4 linked regions of the Homo sapiens genome follow. The protein of the gene in region 4 purifies or fractionates together with the protein of the main gene of each other region. This does not show direct contact. Each region holds a gene or a part of one and is shown on either strand. Other genes may lie near its edges.

Region 1 (3,767 bases), on a different chromosome or scaffold from region 4:
GAAGCTGGGTGTGAGGTGAGTGCCCTGGACCCCCGTGACAGGCAGTGGGCGCTGTCCTGGGCCCAGCCAGGCTCCTCTTGTTAGGGCAAGCCTGGCTGTGGGAGAGTCCTGCCTCTCTCCCCAGCTGTGGGAGTCCTGGTCTGGGGCCCATGACCTTCGGCTCTGCAGCCCTCCGCCTCTCCTCTGGGGTGTGGCCACTGCCCTCCTCGGCAGCTTCCGTCACAGGCACCTTTTCCCTCTTCTAGGTTCCCTGGACCCGGTGGACCCCCAGGGCCAATGGGCCCTGGGCCCAACATGGGACCCCCAGGGCCAATGGGCGGTCCAATGCATCCTGACATGCACCCCGACATGCACCCGGACATGCACCCTGACATGCACGCAGACATGCACGCAGACATGCCGATGGGCCCTGGCATGAATCCTGGCCCACCCATGGGCCCTGGCGGCCCTCCAATGATGCCCTACGGCCCTGGAGACTCCCCACATTCTGGAATGATGCCCCCTATCCCGCCAGCCCAGAACTTCTATGAAAACTTCTACCAGCAGCAGGAGGGCATGGAGATGGAGCCCGGACTCCTGGGGGATGCAGGTATGCGGGACTCCAGGTGTGGCTGCCTGGGGCTGCAGGCTTTACCCAGTGGAGCAGAGTTGGGGAGATGTGATTTTTCTTCCTTCGTCCAAGTCTCTTTGAAAGCATGACTCCATCTCTGTCCCATTTAATGGTTGAATGTTTTCAGTGACATAGGATGTATTCTGTTGAAGAAGAAAGGAGTATTCTGTGTATTACCAATATAGGTTATTTCTTTTTAATTTTGCAAGCTGTGCCTGGAATCGGAAGCATGGGAAGTTAGAGGGACGAGTGTGCAAGGGTGTGAGGCTGAGAGGCTGGTGGGCCCATCAGGACTCAGTTAGTGGCCTGGCCAAAACCATCTCTTTCCGGGCAGTTCTCGGCTTGGAGCAACCAGTGTCCACCCCAGGACTCTGCGGGTTCTGTGCCCATTACCGGCCGTTTTCCTGCCTTTTTTTCCTTTTGCATTGGTAACAAATGTCCAGTGAGCAGAGGGGTTTAGATGACGCTGCTGCAGCCATAGGAGATGTGGTGTGCAGCCCTCTGGAGGAGGGCCAGGCACGAGAGGCCACCACTGTCCTCGCTCAGTTGCATCTTGGTGGAAACAAGCAGGTGGCAAGCGTGTAGATAGAGGAGTTGGCTCCTTTCAGCATTGGCCATTCTTAGAAGAAAAGGTGGGGAACCGTGGCGGTGGGCCAGAAGGCTCAGTGCCTCAGTGGGGATAGTCACAAAAGTCTCTTTGAGAAGTGAAGCGGCACTCACAACGTGAGGAATGATGGGACCTCCGAGGGCAGCGGGTGGGGGCGCTGTGTTGAACTGGGGGAGCTGCTGTGGCAGCTGCTGGGGGCTGTCCCTGGGCAGAGGCAGCAGGGCGGCCACTGGAGTGCAAGGCAGGGCTTCGAGGTTTGGACACGGTGCCGTGGGGCAGTGGGAGCCCCGTGTTTGTTTTGCAAGGTGGGCAGGAGCGGCATTGAGGATGGGGCGCTGGACGTGCGGCATAGTCACTCTAGGGTGCCTGCCCCTCCGACGGCCATGTGGAAATTTTGAGGGGGTGGTTTAAGGGGCATTGGGAGAGGCCCAGGCTAGAGATCAAAATGTGAACGTGGGCTTTGGCTTTAGGTGGTGCATGGACCTGGGAGAGCAGGTACTTGGGTGAGAGTGGGTGCTTTAGAAAGAAAGACGAGAAAAACAGGCTGCCACAGTAGGTGCTGGGGTTCTCAGCTCCTCCCCCTTCAACAAATGCGTCTAAAAGGTGCACGGGAAAAGCTCTGCTGGCGGGGCACCAGAAGTCCGTCACGTTGGTAGCAGTAGGTGTCTCTAGAATAATCCCATTTCATAAAATCCTCCCTCTAACATGTATGGTCATTGGTTTCTGGTGTGTGCACAGACTGTGTGTGAAGGGGGACCCTCGGCTGTCTGGTTCATGGAGTGGGTCCCAGCTCTGCGCTGGGATGTGTCATAGAGCAGGCTGGCCCATCAGGTTCACTTGACGAAGTTGAAATTAATGTAAGCTAAGTTACAAGTGCACTTTTCTAGACACCACGTTTTAAATGCTCAGCTGCCCCAGGAGGATCTAGGCGGCCACATGTTGCCCTGCAGATCTAGAACATTTCCATCACTGCAGAGCGTTCTGTGGGGCAGCACTGACTCCAGACGCCCCCCCCTCCGTTTCGGTGATTCGATGTCTCCCATGCTCACATGTGTCACACACGCAACATGCAGGAGGCGTCGCCGAGCCTGCCCTCCCCTCTACGCCTGCTGCGTCCCCACGTCAGCCTGTGCTGCTGCCCACAGCTCTTGGCTCAGGCACTGGGGGAGTGTGTGGGGTGAGGTGGCTGGTGCCAGTGCCCACGCTGCAGGAGGTGGAGGCCCCGTGCTTCCTGAGACACCCCCTAATGCTGTGGAGTGGGCAGGGAGGCACTCTGGAACTGCTGTTGACCTGTGGCCAGAGCAGCACTTGACCCGTTTCATTCTCTTTTCCTGGCTTTTAGTGTTGAACATGGTCGAGTTCACTATGAGATGCATGGTGTTTCCTTACTGATTGTTAGAAAGAAACCGTGCAACTCCTATCCATCCAAAATAATTTAAAAGTACAGGAAAGAGTACAGAAATCCCTGGCCTCTCCAGAATCTGTGTTCCAGAGGGACTGTTTCTGTGTGTCTTTTCAAAGCTTTCTCCTTGCGTCTTACAAACGTACATCCAATGTTCCATCCTGTTTCCACCTCATAAGCGTTTGCCCGCATCACTCAACCCTCTCTGTGAACCTCATTCTTCATGTAGGCGGGGCTACCCATGGGCCGCTCTGTTCCCCTGAGACCTGGGGAGGGCAGGCAGGGGCAGGCTGTGCGTCCTTCTCCATCGCCATCGGTGTGGGTTTGCAGTGAGGGGCAGGGGGGCTGGAGTTGGCACCTGGAGGCCCTTCCCGACATGAACCCTCGGTTCTTCCCTGCCACAGAGGACTACGGGCACTACGAAGAGCTGCCAGGGGAGCCTGGGGAGCACCTCTTCCCTGAGCACCCTCTGGAGCCCGACAGCTTCTCTGAGGGAGGGCCCCCAGGCCGGCCGAAGCCAGGCGCCGGTGTCCCTGACTTCCTGCCCTCAGCCCAGAGGGCCCTGTACCTGAGGATCCAGCAGAAGCAGCAGGAGGAGGAGGAGAGAGCGAGGAGGCTGGCTGAGAGCAGCAAGCAGGACCGGGAGAATGAGGAAGGCACGTGTCCGCCCCAGGGGCCGGGGCACAGGCCCCAGGCCGCTGTGCAGGGGAGCGGCGGTGGTGGGGTGTTCCAGGTTGGGTTTCCTGTCAGGAAGGAGCCCATGGCTAGGGAGGACCCCTGTCCAGGGCCATGAAGCCGGGCTGGGGCTGCTGCATGTCCCTGAGAAAACTGGCAGTCAGGGGTGGCTTTCTGTGTTGGGTTCAGGAGAGACCCTGATCCCATGGAGTAGGATGGAGGGCTAGTTCCTGGAGGAGACAGTGGCCAACAGGATTGACCGCCTGTGCCCTGCCAGAGGAGGCTTTAGGGAGACCCTCACAGCCCCTGTTTTCCTACCGTGTTCTCAAGGAGCCAACAAACAAGAGCTAGTCATTGAAATTAACCAGTAATAATCATAGTCACGAGCCACCGAGTCTCAGTTGCTGCATGGTTGACTTAGTGGTGTCCACTTTGGGGTAAAATGACAAGTGGTGTCTAGATCCTGAAGCCAG
Region 2 (4,305 bases), on a different chromosome or scaffold from region 4:
CACCCGATGAGAAACACCCACAGGTGTGGAGCGGCAGGCCACCCCTTCACTATTTACATAGTATTTACATTGTATTAGATGTTATAAGTAATCTAGAGATGATTTAAAGTATATGGGAGGATGTGCATAGGTTATATGCAAATATTACACCATTGTGAAAGTTGCAGAATCAAAATGGAGTCACTTGTGTCAAAACCCTGATAAATGCAGCTGGGGAAGGCCTTGAAGGAAGGGTTCTCATGCACTACGCCTCATAACAAGAATTGTCACAAAAGACCCTAACCTTGCAGAAAGGCCCAATCTTAAACACAGAAAATCCTTCTGCAAGGACATCTGTCCAGCAACTTTGGACTGATGCTACCTTTGTTATTCATTCTTTTAGCCAAAGATAATTGATTTAAAGCAATTCATATAATCTTCATTTTCCTTTTAAAAACATCTCCTTGCCTCAACCTCCCCCAAAACGCACACAGTTTACTATGGCATGCATATTCCCATTGCAATGCTACTCCCAGATAAATCTCATTTTCTTTTAGGGAGCCTCTTTTGTTACTTAGGTTTACACCATTGTATACAAGGGACTTGAGCATTCTAATTCTGGTATCCGCAGGGTCCTGGAACCATTCCCCCACGGACACTAAGGGACAACTGTACTTGTTTTTCATGACAGAAAACATGTTTAGGAGTACTAATTTTTTTTCCCCCATAGAAGATTTCCATAGAAGGGTTTTGGAGAGAGACACCACAGGAACATGCTATCAGCATGATTTCTTCCTGATGTTATCCTTGACCACCCGGTAAGGTACTGTTTGCCAGGTTTCTCCACTGTAGTCCCCAACACCATTCCAGGCTGTACTCTTTGGAATCAAGTTACTAGGCATAGCCCATAATCAAAGTGGGGGTGGGTGGGGCAGAAATCGAGCTCCCGCTATTGGAAGAAGGGGTATTTAGATATATTATTTAGAATTTTCCTGTGAGGCGGGTCCTGGGGCCAGAATGAAACGGTGGAATGGGGGCGGGGATTGGCGAGCAAAGTGACTCGACCCGGCAAACCCAGCCTGGCAGGAAAGCCCGAGGTCTGGGCGAACAGGGCCGCGCGCCCTAGGTGGTTTAACTTCGTAAGGAAAGACTCCGCAGGCCGGCTTTTCAGTGCGCAGCTTGCTCGCCTGCGGGTTACTGGGTTTTCTGACCCCTGACTCGACGTAGGGGTTATGGGGCTGTGGGTGTGCCGACCTCGTCCCCGACTGTACTGGGCGTTGGCGGCGAGTCCGCGAACACTGCGCATGCGCGAGCCGGAAGCTGCCGCCCGCGGCGGAAGGGGCGGACCCGGGAGACTGAGGACTTGGATTGCTTAAGGACACCAGGCAGGCGCGACAGCCTTCAGCCTCTCCCTCTGCAGTTTTGGCCGGTTCCTTTAACTTGCCTTCATCTGGGGCTGTTTGGTATTTCCACGTGCCTTGGGCCCGCCCACTGCAGCCTCCATCTTGGAAGCGGCCGCCGGCGCCTAGGTGAGCTAGTAGGACTTCCGGGTCGGGCCTCCAGTTGCCCGGGTAACGGGAGCAGAGTCGGCGGGGTGCGTTCCTTAGTCTTTCATTCATCAGCGTAAAAAGAACTGAGTTTAGGTCGCAGGTCCCCTCCAGGGCAGGCATTATCGTGTGCGCTGCAGTAACCTCTCATCTTGTGGAGTCCTACACTTAGCGCATGTTGCTCCGGCGCGCTGCGTAAAGCTGAGGAGCCTGAGGCCCGAGGTCCGATGCTCGCCTGGCTGGCCTATGGCTGCGGGAGCGGTGTGTGTCGGACCGTAGGACGGCCTCACGGCTAGAGTTTGAGGACTATGGGGGCGGGGACGGTGCCTGTGTCTGTGGCGGTCACCGGGCTTCACGTGGTCCTCAGCAGGGTGATGGTGGACAGCTCGCGCGAGGGCCCGGGAGTCTTGGGGACACTTCCCGGCGCGGTCTGTGGACTGAGCGCTGGGACCCGCACCGAACCAGCCGCCGTTCGCCTCTGGAGCTGGACATGCCGACTTTCGTTAGGTCAAATAATGAACCTTATACTGCGGAAGTGCGGTATTAATATTGCCTGGAGTTCTTGTCTCTTGCTCATTTCTGCCCTCGTATGTTTTAGAAGTAGATTTATTTTTTATTTTTATTTTTTTAATTTATTTTTTGTGACAGAGTCTCGCTCTGTCGCCCAGGTTGGAGTGCAGTGGCGTGATCTCGTCTAGCTGCAGCTTCCGCCTCCTGAGATCAAGCGATTCTCCTGCCTCAGCCTCCCCAGTAGCTGGTATTACAGGTGCCTGCCACCACGCCCGGCTGATTTTTGTATTTTTAGTAGAGACGGGGTTTCACCATGTTGGCCAGGCTGGTCTTGAACTCCTGACCTCAGCCCGCCTCGGGCTCCCAAAGTGCTGGTTTTACAGGCGTGAGCCACTGTACCCAGCCATTATTTTATTTTTATTTATGTATTTATTTTTTTATTTTTTTGAGACGGAGCCTCGCTCTGTCGCCCAGGCTGGAGTGCAGTAGCGCGATCTCGGCTCACTGCAACCTCCGCCTCCCAGGTTCAAGCGATTCTCCTGCCTCAGCCTCCCAAGTAGCTGGGATTACAGGCGTGTGCCACCACGCCTAGCTATTTTTTGTATTTTTAGTAGATTAAGCTGTAGTCACTAGGTCTGCAAGATAAAACTGTTTTAGAGGGACTGATATAATGGGAATTCTGTTACTGTAGGGATCATGATTTAGCTCACAGTATAAACGTTTCATGTACAAAAGCACTTGAGAGAAACAGTTTACCAAAACATACATTTGTATACTTAAAGGTACAAAGAACAGTGATTATCATATAACTGGAAAGTAAATCAAAGAAATGTTTTTTATTTTAGATTGAGCATTTCCACAGAAATTACAGTTTTGTCCTTTTTGAAAAAATAGAACTGTATTTCAGAAAAAAGAAACTACAGTTTTAGCATGCAGAAAGGAAAAGGGAGAACAAGCCGGATCAGAAGACGAAAACTCTGCGGAAGTTCTGAATCAAGAGGAGGTATGGTTTTTCTTTTAGTACCAGTAATGAAAAAAGAAATCCTTTTGTGATTGCTTGTTTGTTCATACGTAGCTTTTCTTTCTTTCTTTCTTTTTTCTGAGACGGATTCTCGCTCTGTCACCCAGGCTGGAGTGCAGTGGTGTCATCTTGGCTCACTGCAACCTCTGCTTCCCCGGTTCAAGCGATTCTCCTGCCTCAGCCTCCCAAGTAGCTGGGACTACAGGCGTGAGCCAGCATGCTCGGCCTAACACATAGCTTTTCTCAAAGGCACACAGTGTTCAAAGAGAATCTTTCTTTTTTTTTTTTTTTTGGAGACAAGGTACATTCTGTTACCCAGATTGGAATGCAGTGGCGTGATCATGGCTTGATCTCCCAGGCTCAAGTGATCTCCTCCCTTAGCCTCCCTCCTGCCTCAGCCTCCCAAGTACCTGGGACTACAGGTACATGCCACTGCACCCGGCTAATGTTTTTTTAAATTTGTTGTAGTGACAGGGTCTATGTTGCACAGGCTGGTCTTGAACTCCTGGGCTCGAGTGGTCCTCCTGCCTTGGCCTCCCCAAAGCACTGGGATTACAGGTGTGAGCCACTGTGCCCAGCCCAAAGAGAATATTTCTTAAATAACACTCTTTTTTAATGGTGCCATTGTATTCTTTTAGATCCTGGTGGGAATGTGAAGATAACTAACTCATTGTTTCAACTGTCTTCTCTGGGGATGACTCCCAACTTTCTTTTTCTGGTCTTGACCTTCAGCTATCTGTAGGATATCAATGTTTGGATGTAAATTTATGACTTCAAATTCAGGGTAACCCTGTCTGAAGAAGATACTGTATCTTGTTCAATACAAAAGTGCTTGGCCATCTGGAAAGTCCTATGTAAATCCAACTGGATATGGTACAAGATATCGATAAGCTCACTTTTTTTTTTGCTGATGGAGGTCCAGTTGTTTGATCATCATTTATTGAAAAGACTATCTTCTTCCACTGATTTGCCTTTGCACTTTGTCAAAAATTTACGTGTGGACCTCTTCCTATTTTCTGTGTTGTTCCTTTGACCTATTTGTGTCTGTTTTGACAATATCACACTAATTTGATTACTGTAGCTTTATAATAAGTTTTAAAATCAATCTTTCAAAGATATTGGGGCTATTCTAGGCTTTTTACATTTCCACATGAATTTTGGGATCATCTTGTTAATTCCTGTATGAAAGCCTGCTTGAATTTTGATTAGGATTACATTGAATGAATATAGTCGTATGTTGCATAAGTA
Region 3 (3,767 bases), on a different chromosome or scaffold from region 4:
GGCTTTTTTTTTTTTTTTTTGAGGAGACTAGCTCGTTTGAAACCTTCGCAACACCTGTCAGTCCCTTCTCACTGCCTAAATAGCCCTTTCCTCTTCTGAGGCCAGCAGTCTGAATTTAGAGAAGAGATCAGGTTAGATTTCATTAAATGCTTGCTTTTCTTTCAGCTTGTCAGTCATTGCAAAAGCCTCCACCGTTTCCAGGTTACTGGACAGTCTTTTTTTTTTTGAGATGGAGTTTCACTCTTGTTGCTCAGGCTGTTTTGCAGTGTTGCGATCTCGGCTCCCTGCGGCCTCTGCCTCCCAGGTTCAAGCGATTCTCCTGCCTCAGCCTCCCGAGTAGCTGGGATTACAGGCATCAGCCACCATACCCAGTTAATTTTTTGTATTTTCAGTAGAAACAGGGTTTCACCATGTTGGCTAGGATGGTCTCAAACTCCTAACCTCAGGTGATTCACCCGCCTCGGCCTCCTGAAGTGCTGGGATTACGGGCATGAGCCACTGCGCCCAGCCTGGACAGTCTTGATGGGAGGATGATCATTGCCCTGTTGTTGCTCTGACAGTGTGAGCTGTGGCTCAAGAAGGTAGCTTTGGTTTTACTGATCATAATGTGGAGATGCAGAAACTCTAACACATAAGTGTGATGTATGGTGTGACTTATTCCTAGCCAAATGTAACTCCAGTGGATTATTTACAGTTTCTTCTTTTATTTCCAAAAGGTCATAATCATCACCTGATATTTTATTTTCTTTTATATATATATATAGAATTCAGCATTTTATGTGGATAGTGAGTTATTGGTTCGAGCCCTTCAAGAGCTGCCTCTCTGCCTCCGACTCAACGTTGCTGCCGAACTGGTCCAGGTAAAAATCCCGAAGCCCTCTTGAAGCGGGTGGATTAGGGCAGGAGGAGAAAAAGAGGGGAACACTTCCCTCAGCAGGATGTCTCAGTGTCAGCTTCCCTTTATAAAAGTGAGGGTTTCATATCAAGGTAGCATTTTGTAAAGTTTAAAGGAGAATCCAAAAATTTTTTGAAGTTACTTTTTTATATTTTATATTTGAAACATTTTAAAGGATCAAATGTAGTGGAATTGAGTGAAATGTAAAATATAAAGTCTGGCTATTTTACTCAAAATATTTACGCATCACGCTCTATGTTCGGCACTAGGGACACAGTGGTGAACAGACAGATGTCGTTCCTGCCTTTCTGGAACTTAATCTATTGGGAAGGATGAATATTAATCAAATAGTCACACAAACATATACAAATTGTAATACATCCTGTGAAGTACAGTGTGCTTTTAGAGTAAATCAGTTTCTGGTGTGGTGTGGTTAGGAATGGCTTTCTGAAGCAGTGATAGATGAGCTGAGGTCTAAAGCATAAGGACATTTGAGCTGGCATTTAAACGAGAAAGACCCAGTCAGCTTTGCGTTAATAAAAACGATGGGGCTGCCAAGTAGAGAAGACTGTGGGATTGGAGTGCATGTGTGGGGGTAAGTCTGCATGTGCACATACACATGCACAGAGCAGGTGAGGGAGGCACATGGGGAGGCTGTTGTACAGGTGCAGGTGAGTAGTACTGTAGCTTGGACTACAGTAATGACGGTGGAGATGGCAGAGGAGAGGGCTGTACTGAGGTACTTCAAAGGTACAATTAACAGGATTTGACGGTATATTGGAAATTGGGAGAGAGTGGTCAAGAAAAAATTCAAGACTTTGTAGATTGTGCAACTCAGTGGTAGGATCAGGAAGGGTGAGTTTTGGACTTTATGAGTTTGTGCCTCTGAGATATCCAAGTGGAAATAACAGTCAACTGAATGCTGAACTTTATAGTTCTACATCAAGGGCTAGAAATACAAATTCAGGAGATAACAGGATGAAGTGATAATTGATGAACTAAGAGAGGGGGAGGCCCAAAGATTATGCCATGAAGAACTTCAACATTCTGGCACGATCAAAAAAAAAAAAAAAAGTGAAACCTTGGGACGTACTGATTTTAAGTAGAATCCTAGCAACTGAAATTATCAACTTCCTTCTGTGGGTGAATGTGATGCTAAGCTTGAGCATAGTAATGAATTGGTTACCCATTCATTTGCTGTATAGCATTTACTAGTCTAAAATTTGGGACAGCAGGCAGAGTTCAGGGATGGAGGACAGTTAGGGACAGGGTAGAGAACTAGAAAGAATTACATTTGCCTCTGATGGGGGATTGCCCTGGGGGTTCTTTGGAAACATTTGGGGGTGTTTGGGAGAGCACTAGTGGCTCTTCTGCTGATGTCCAGTGATGTTCAAAGTTCTGAAGTGCTTGGCTTGATCTCATATGATGAGGAATGTTTAGCAGAACTCACCAGGGAAATGCTGAGATAAAGGATTCAGGACTCAGGACAGAGAGGAAGTGGTTGTGAGTGTTTGAAGTGAAGGTTGTAATGTCAGTGGCAGGCATTAAAGGTATAAAATAATTATGTGACATTGAAATCCTGGCTAAATCACTTAGAAACATTTCTCCCCCACCCATGCTGTAGAGCAGTATTCTCTACCTTGTTTGCACATTAGAATCACCTGGGGAGTTAAAAACAAACAAAAACAAGGCCAGACACCCACCCCAGAACAATTAAATGACTCTAAGATTAGAATAGAGGACCATGTCCCAGCTTTGCCCTGTACAACTGACTGACTCTGCTGGATATTTATTCCTGTTTGTATATAAAGCCATACCGTCTTACATGTCTGCTCAGGATGTTTATGTAAAAATAAGGGGTCAGGACCTCCAGTAGAGGTTGAACTTCTGAACCTGCCCACTGTGAGGCCTTGCTCATCCCTGGAGCCTTCCCTCGAGAGCGGTGATTCTCAGCCTTAGATTATAACCTTGTATTACAATCACCGGGGGAGTTTGTAACTTTTATTAAAGTATAACATCGATTCAGAAAAGTGCACATGTAAGTATACATGGAATGAGCATCCGGATAAAGACTTAGAATATTGTCAGCACCTCAGAAGCCACCATTCATACACACTCCACGTCACTCTCTCCCCAAAAGGCACTCGCTCACCTAACTTCTAATACCGTAGCTTTTGAACTTTTTACAAATACAATCATCAAATAGTGTATTTTCTTTTGTGTCTGGCATTTTTTACCAAGGAGAGTCTTGGTGAATTTGTTACTGCACCTTTATATTAGTGCACTTAAATACAATGAACAGATCTGATTTGCTAATTACTTCCTGGTGACTTTTTTTTTTTTTTTTTTTTTTTTGAGACGGAGTCTCATTCTGTTGCCCAGGCTCGAGTGCAGTGGTACAATCTCAGCTTACTGCAAGCTCCGCCTCCCAGGTTCACGCCATTCTCCTGCCTCAGCCTCCCGAGTAGCTGGGACTAGACACTCTCCACCACTCCTGGCTAATTTTTTTGTTTTTTGTTTGTTTGTTTGTTTGTTTGTTTAGTAGAGACAGGGTTTCACCATGTTAGCCAGGATGGTCTCAATCTCCTGACCTCATGATCCACCCACCTTGGCCTCCCAAAGTGCTGGGATTACAGGCATGAGCCACTGCGCCTGGCCACTTCTTGGTGACTTTTTATAGATGTTCATGTCTTAATACAGATTTAAGTGTAAAGCCAAATAGACCTATGGTACTGGCAGTTTTCAGGCCAGGGCTAGGAAGACATGGATCTTTTCATTCCAAATCTGAGCTAGTTAGCACATGGTCAAGGTAGGGAGAGTGGGAGGCACAGTGCTGGCATGTTTCAGTGAGGTCTCCCACATTTACCCCAGA
Region 4 (3,767 bases):
GTTGGCACTATTGACATTTTGTGCTGGAAAATTTTTTGTTATGGGGCTGTCCTGGGCATTGTAGGATGTTTAACAACATCACTGGAATCTGTCCATCAGAGGACATCACCTCCCAACCCTGGTTGTATTTTATTTATTTATTTATTTATTGAGGCAGGGTTTTGCTCTGTTACCCGGGCTGGAGTGCAGTGGCACAGTCACAGCTCACAGTAGCCTCGACCTCCCTGGGCCTAGGTGATCCTCTTACCTTAGCCTCCTGAGTAGCTGGGACTGCAGGCATGCACCACCACACCCACATAATTAAAAAAATTTTCTTTGTAGAGACAGAGTCTCCCTGTGTTGCCTGGCTGGTCTGGAATTCCTGGCCTTAAGGGATCTACCCACCTGGGCCTCCCAAAGTGCTGTGATTATAGATGTGAGCCACCACGCCTGGCCCACCCTGGGTTTTGACAACCAAAAATGTCTCCTTACATTGTCAAATGTTCCCTCAGGGGTTGAGCAGGGGGATAGCAATCACTGTGTAGAGGCAGTTAGAATAATATTACACCTGCTGTGATTTAAGTGAGCTCAGGCCCTGGGGACCAGGGCTGAATCCTGGAGGGAGCAGCCTCCAGGCCAAGGCCTGAATCTAATTGAGGTTTTTTTTGATTGCTAAAACCAGGTTTCTTTTAAAGTCTGGCAACCTCTACAGTGCTTAAAATGAGAGGGTTTATTTGAATCATGATTCTGTGATACTAGAGCTGGAAGGGACCCTAAAACCCAATGTCTTCAACGCCTTCCTGGTTCAGAGAGGAAAGTAGGAGCGACAGGGCTAGAATTCAGGACTCCCACCTCCCAGCTCAGCTCACTGTCCCCACACGCCGTCCACATAGACACAGTTGCCACGTTTGATTCAACTTCTCTATGGTGACTTGGTTACTCAGAGCCCCTTTTGTGGTGGGACCCACTGTGACCTTAGCTGCCCATTATGTTCCTAGGGCTTCGGGTCTCACCTGTGAATTGATGGCATCCTTTAACCAGTGCTTTGCAATCTCTCTCTTTAGTCCGCAACCATCCCTCTGTTCATGCGAAACAAAGATGTCGCTGCAGAAGCGGTGAGTGCCTCGGGTATGTGCAGCCTGTCCTCGTGTTCTCCCTCAGATGAACTCTGAGGAAGAAAGGGAAACCAAAACTCTCTGTTTGCAGGTCACAGGTAGTGGCAAAACACTCGCTTTTGTCATCCCCATCCTGGAAATTCTTCTGAGAAGAGAAGAGAAGTTAAAAAAGAGTCAGGTGAGGACAACAAAAGTGATTTATTTTCACCTAGTCATCAGAGAGTTCACATTGGATTAAGAAGCTGGCTACAAATGTGAAAAAATAGGCCAGAAGCCGTGGCTCACGCCTGTAATCCCAGCACTTTGGGAGACTGAGTCTGGAGGATCACTGGAGTCCAGGAGTTTGAGACCAGCCTGGGCAACACAGTGAGACTTCATCTCTACAAATAATGAATGAATGAAACTTGAAAAAAAAAGACAGTTAATCCTCATTATTTGTGGATTCTGTATTTGTGAATTTGCCTGCTCGTTAAAATTTAGAACACCCCAGTGGATCCTCGGTGCTTCTGTGGTCATGGGCGTGGGCAGAGCTGCCTTTGTTTTCACTGCTCAGGTGTAAACAGTGTCCTTTTCGTCATTTATTTAGTGCCATGTTTTTTACCTTTTTTTTTTTTTTCTTTTTTCCCTGAGACAGGGTTTTGCTCTGTCACCCAGGCTGGAGTGCAGTGGTGTGATCTCATCTCACTGCAACCTCCACCTCCCAGGCTTAAGCTGTCCTCCTGCCTCAGCCTTCCAAGTAGCTGGGACTACAGGTGTGGACCATCATGTCTGGGTCATTTTTTGTATTTTTTGACATGTTACCCAGGCTGGTCTTAAACTCCTGGGCTCAAGTGATCCTTCCGCCTCGGCCTCCCAAAGTGCTGGGATTACAGGTGTGAGCTACCGCGCCCGGCCATTTTGCACATTTTTGTGCTTTATGTTGGTGATTTTGGTTTTTGAAATGGCCCCGTGATGTAGTGCAGTCTAGTGTTCCTGGGTGCAAGAAGGTTATGACGTGCAGAGAAAATCCCTGTGCTAGAGAAGCACAAGCTAAGGCATGAGTTAATGTGCTGTTGGCCACGAGTTCAATGAGAATGAATCAATAGTATATGTTAAATAGAGTCTTTTAAGCACAAACAGACATAAAATAGGTTTATGTATTGATTGGTTGACAAAAATGTCATGCCCAAAGACTGGCAGGAACCTAACCCTGTGTTTCCCCTGTGAGCAGTGGTTCAGCATTGACTAATTCACTGTTCTTCATGACTTGAAAGAGCATAACTGCAGTATATGATGACGAGTAACCGTAATTCAAAGTAGTTGATATGTGCTCAGAGATGCTGCTGAGAAAGTCTGGGAACTACTGTTTCTCTGGAACTTTCCTTTGTGTGGTAGAGGGCGGAGGGCCTATGAGTTCCTCTCTGGGAGTCCCTTGTGCTGCTGACTGTGTCCCTTCCTTCCATGTGGGTAGGTTGGAGCCATAATCATCACCCCCACTCGAGAGCTGGCCATTCAAATAGACGAGGTCCTGTCGCATTTCACGAAGCACTTCCCCGAGTTCAGGTGAATTGGATGCAGTGTCCCTGTTAGTCATGGGCTGTTTTGTCGAACTTAATCAAAGGCTGTTTTCTTGTTGTAGCCAGATTCTTTGGATCGGAGGCAGGAATCCTGGAGAAGATGTTGAGAGGTTTAAGCAACAAGGGTGAGTTTGCTCGTGTCTGCTTGTTTCTTTGCTTGCTTTTGGCATTGAACCTAAGAATCGATGTGTGATCTCAGCCTAACTGTGGGTCCCCCTTTCAGCAGCCTCCTCCCCCTGCAAAAAGGTGTTTTCTCCAGGCCAGCTTCCCATTGTGCTTTGCTGGCTCCTTCCCATAAGGCCCTGATGAGAACTTCACAAACTCAGGTTCTTACAGAGGTCAAGAGAACGACGTGAAGATAAATGAGTGGTCAGGGGCTGGGGGATGGTGAGGAACTGGCCAGCAGCTGCCTTGAATACTCAGCTCCAGCTGGTAGTTGCCTGGGAGGACTCGGCTCAGTAGTGGCAGGTTTTGAATTTTTTAAAAAGAAGATGGAATTCCAGATTTGTGTGTGTAATCTCCTGATTTTTTAACTGTTGGCGTGTAATCCACATTTGAAAAACATATCTTGTAGGTGAGCCAGTCTGAGGGAGCCACATCTGGCCCTGAGTCTGCCAGTTTGTGATCTTTACATAGGATTCTCTAATTCTGTCAACATTTCCATTTTACAAGTGAGTTACCTGGGACCTACAATGGTTGAGTAACTTGCGTAAGTCAGAGGTTGGTAAGCTTTTTTTTTATAAAGGAGCAGATGGTAAATGTTTTCGGCTTTGTGAACCATATGGTCTCCATCGCACTTACTCAACTGCTGTTGTAGTGTGAAGGCAGCGATAGACAACATGTGAATAAATGGGCGTGGTTTTCTGCCAATAAAATACTTGGCAAGGACAGGCAGCAGCCCAGGTTTGGTCCGGGAGCTGGAGTTTGCCAACCTTGCCTAGGTCATAGCCCAGAACCCAGATCCCGTCTCACCACAGCCCTCAGTCTTTCTACCCTGCAGCACTCTTCTACTCTCATGCTCTTCGTTCTCTTCACTAGGGCTTAAATGACTTTGGGGGGATATAAAACTTGGTATTTTGGTAATCATCAACCACATTCCCAAGATCCAGAGAGTTTG

The links.
Region 1: the proteins of DDX55 (region 4) and ZC3H4 purify together in Homo sapiens (affinity purification with mass spectrometry; one large-scale study listed by BioGRID and IntAct). This does not show direct contact.
Region 2: the proteins of DDX55 (region 4) and SETD4 fractionate together in Homo sapiens (co-fractionation; one large-scale study listed by BioGRID). This does not show direct contact.
Region 3: the proteins of DDX55 (region 4) and AVEN purify together in Homo sapiens (affinity purification with mass spectrometry; one large-scale study listed by BioGRID and IntAct). This does not show direct contact.

What each region holds. Positions count from the first base shown.
Region 1 is NC_000019.10:47,068,600-47,072,366, reverse strand, and holds part of ZC3H4 (zinc finger CCCH domain-containing protein 4), read left to right. Parts: coding exon 1-15; intron 16-245; coding exon 246-589; intron 590-3,023; coding exon 3,024-3,275; intron 3,276-3,767. UniProt on the Homo sapiens protein: RNA-binding protein that suppresses transcription of long non-coding RNAs (lncRNAs). LncRNAs are defined as transcripts more than 200 nucleotides that are not translated into protein.
Region 2 is NC_000021.9:36,057,550-36,061,854, reverse strand, and holds the start of SETD4 (SET domain-containing protein 4), read left to right. Parts: upstream 1-1,328; 5' UTR 1,329-1,508; exon of another isoform or gene 1,509-2,033; intron 2,034-2,881; exon of another isoform or gene 2,882-2,930; 5' UTR 2,931-2,966; coding exon 2,967-3,039; intron 3,040-4,305. UniProt on the Homo sapiens protein: Protein-lysine N-methyltransferase that methylates both histones and non-histone proteins. Via its catalytic activity, regulates many processes, including cell proliferation, cell differentiation, inflammatory response and apoptosis.
Region 3 is NC_000015.10:33,868,028-33,871,794, reverse strand, and holds part of AVEN (cell death regulator Aven), read left to right. Parts: intron 1-764; coding exon 765-860; intron 861-3,767. UniProt on the Homo sapiens protein: Protects against apoptosis mediated by Apaf-1.
Region 4 is NC_000012.12:123,604,888-123,608,654, forward strand, and holds part of DDX55 (ATP-dependent RNA helicase DDX55), read left to right. Parts: exon of another isoform or gene 1-1,043; coding exon 1,044-1,094; exon of another isoform or gene 1,095-1,140; coding exon of another isoform or gene 1,141-1,185; coding exon 1,186-1,272; intron 1,273-2,544; coding exon 2,545-2,636; intron 2,637-2,712; coding exon 2,713-2,775; intron 2,776-3,767. UniProt on the Homo sapiens protein: Probable ATP-binding RNA helicase. Has ATPase activity and is involved in the maturation of precursor large subunit rRNAs.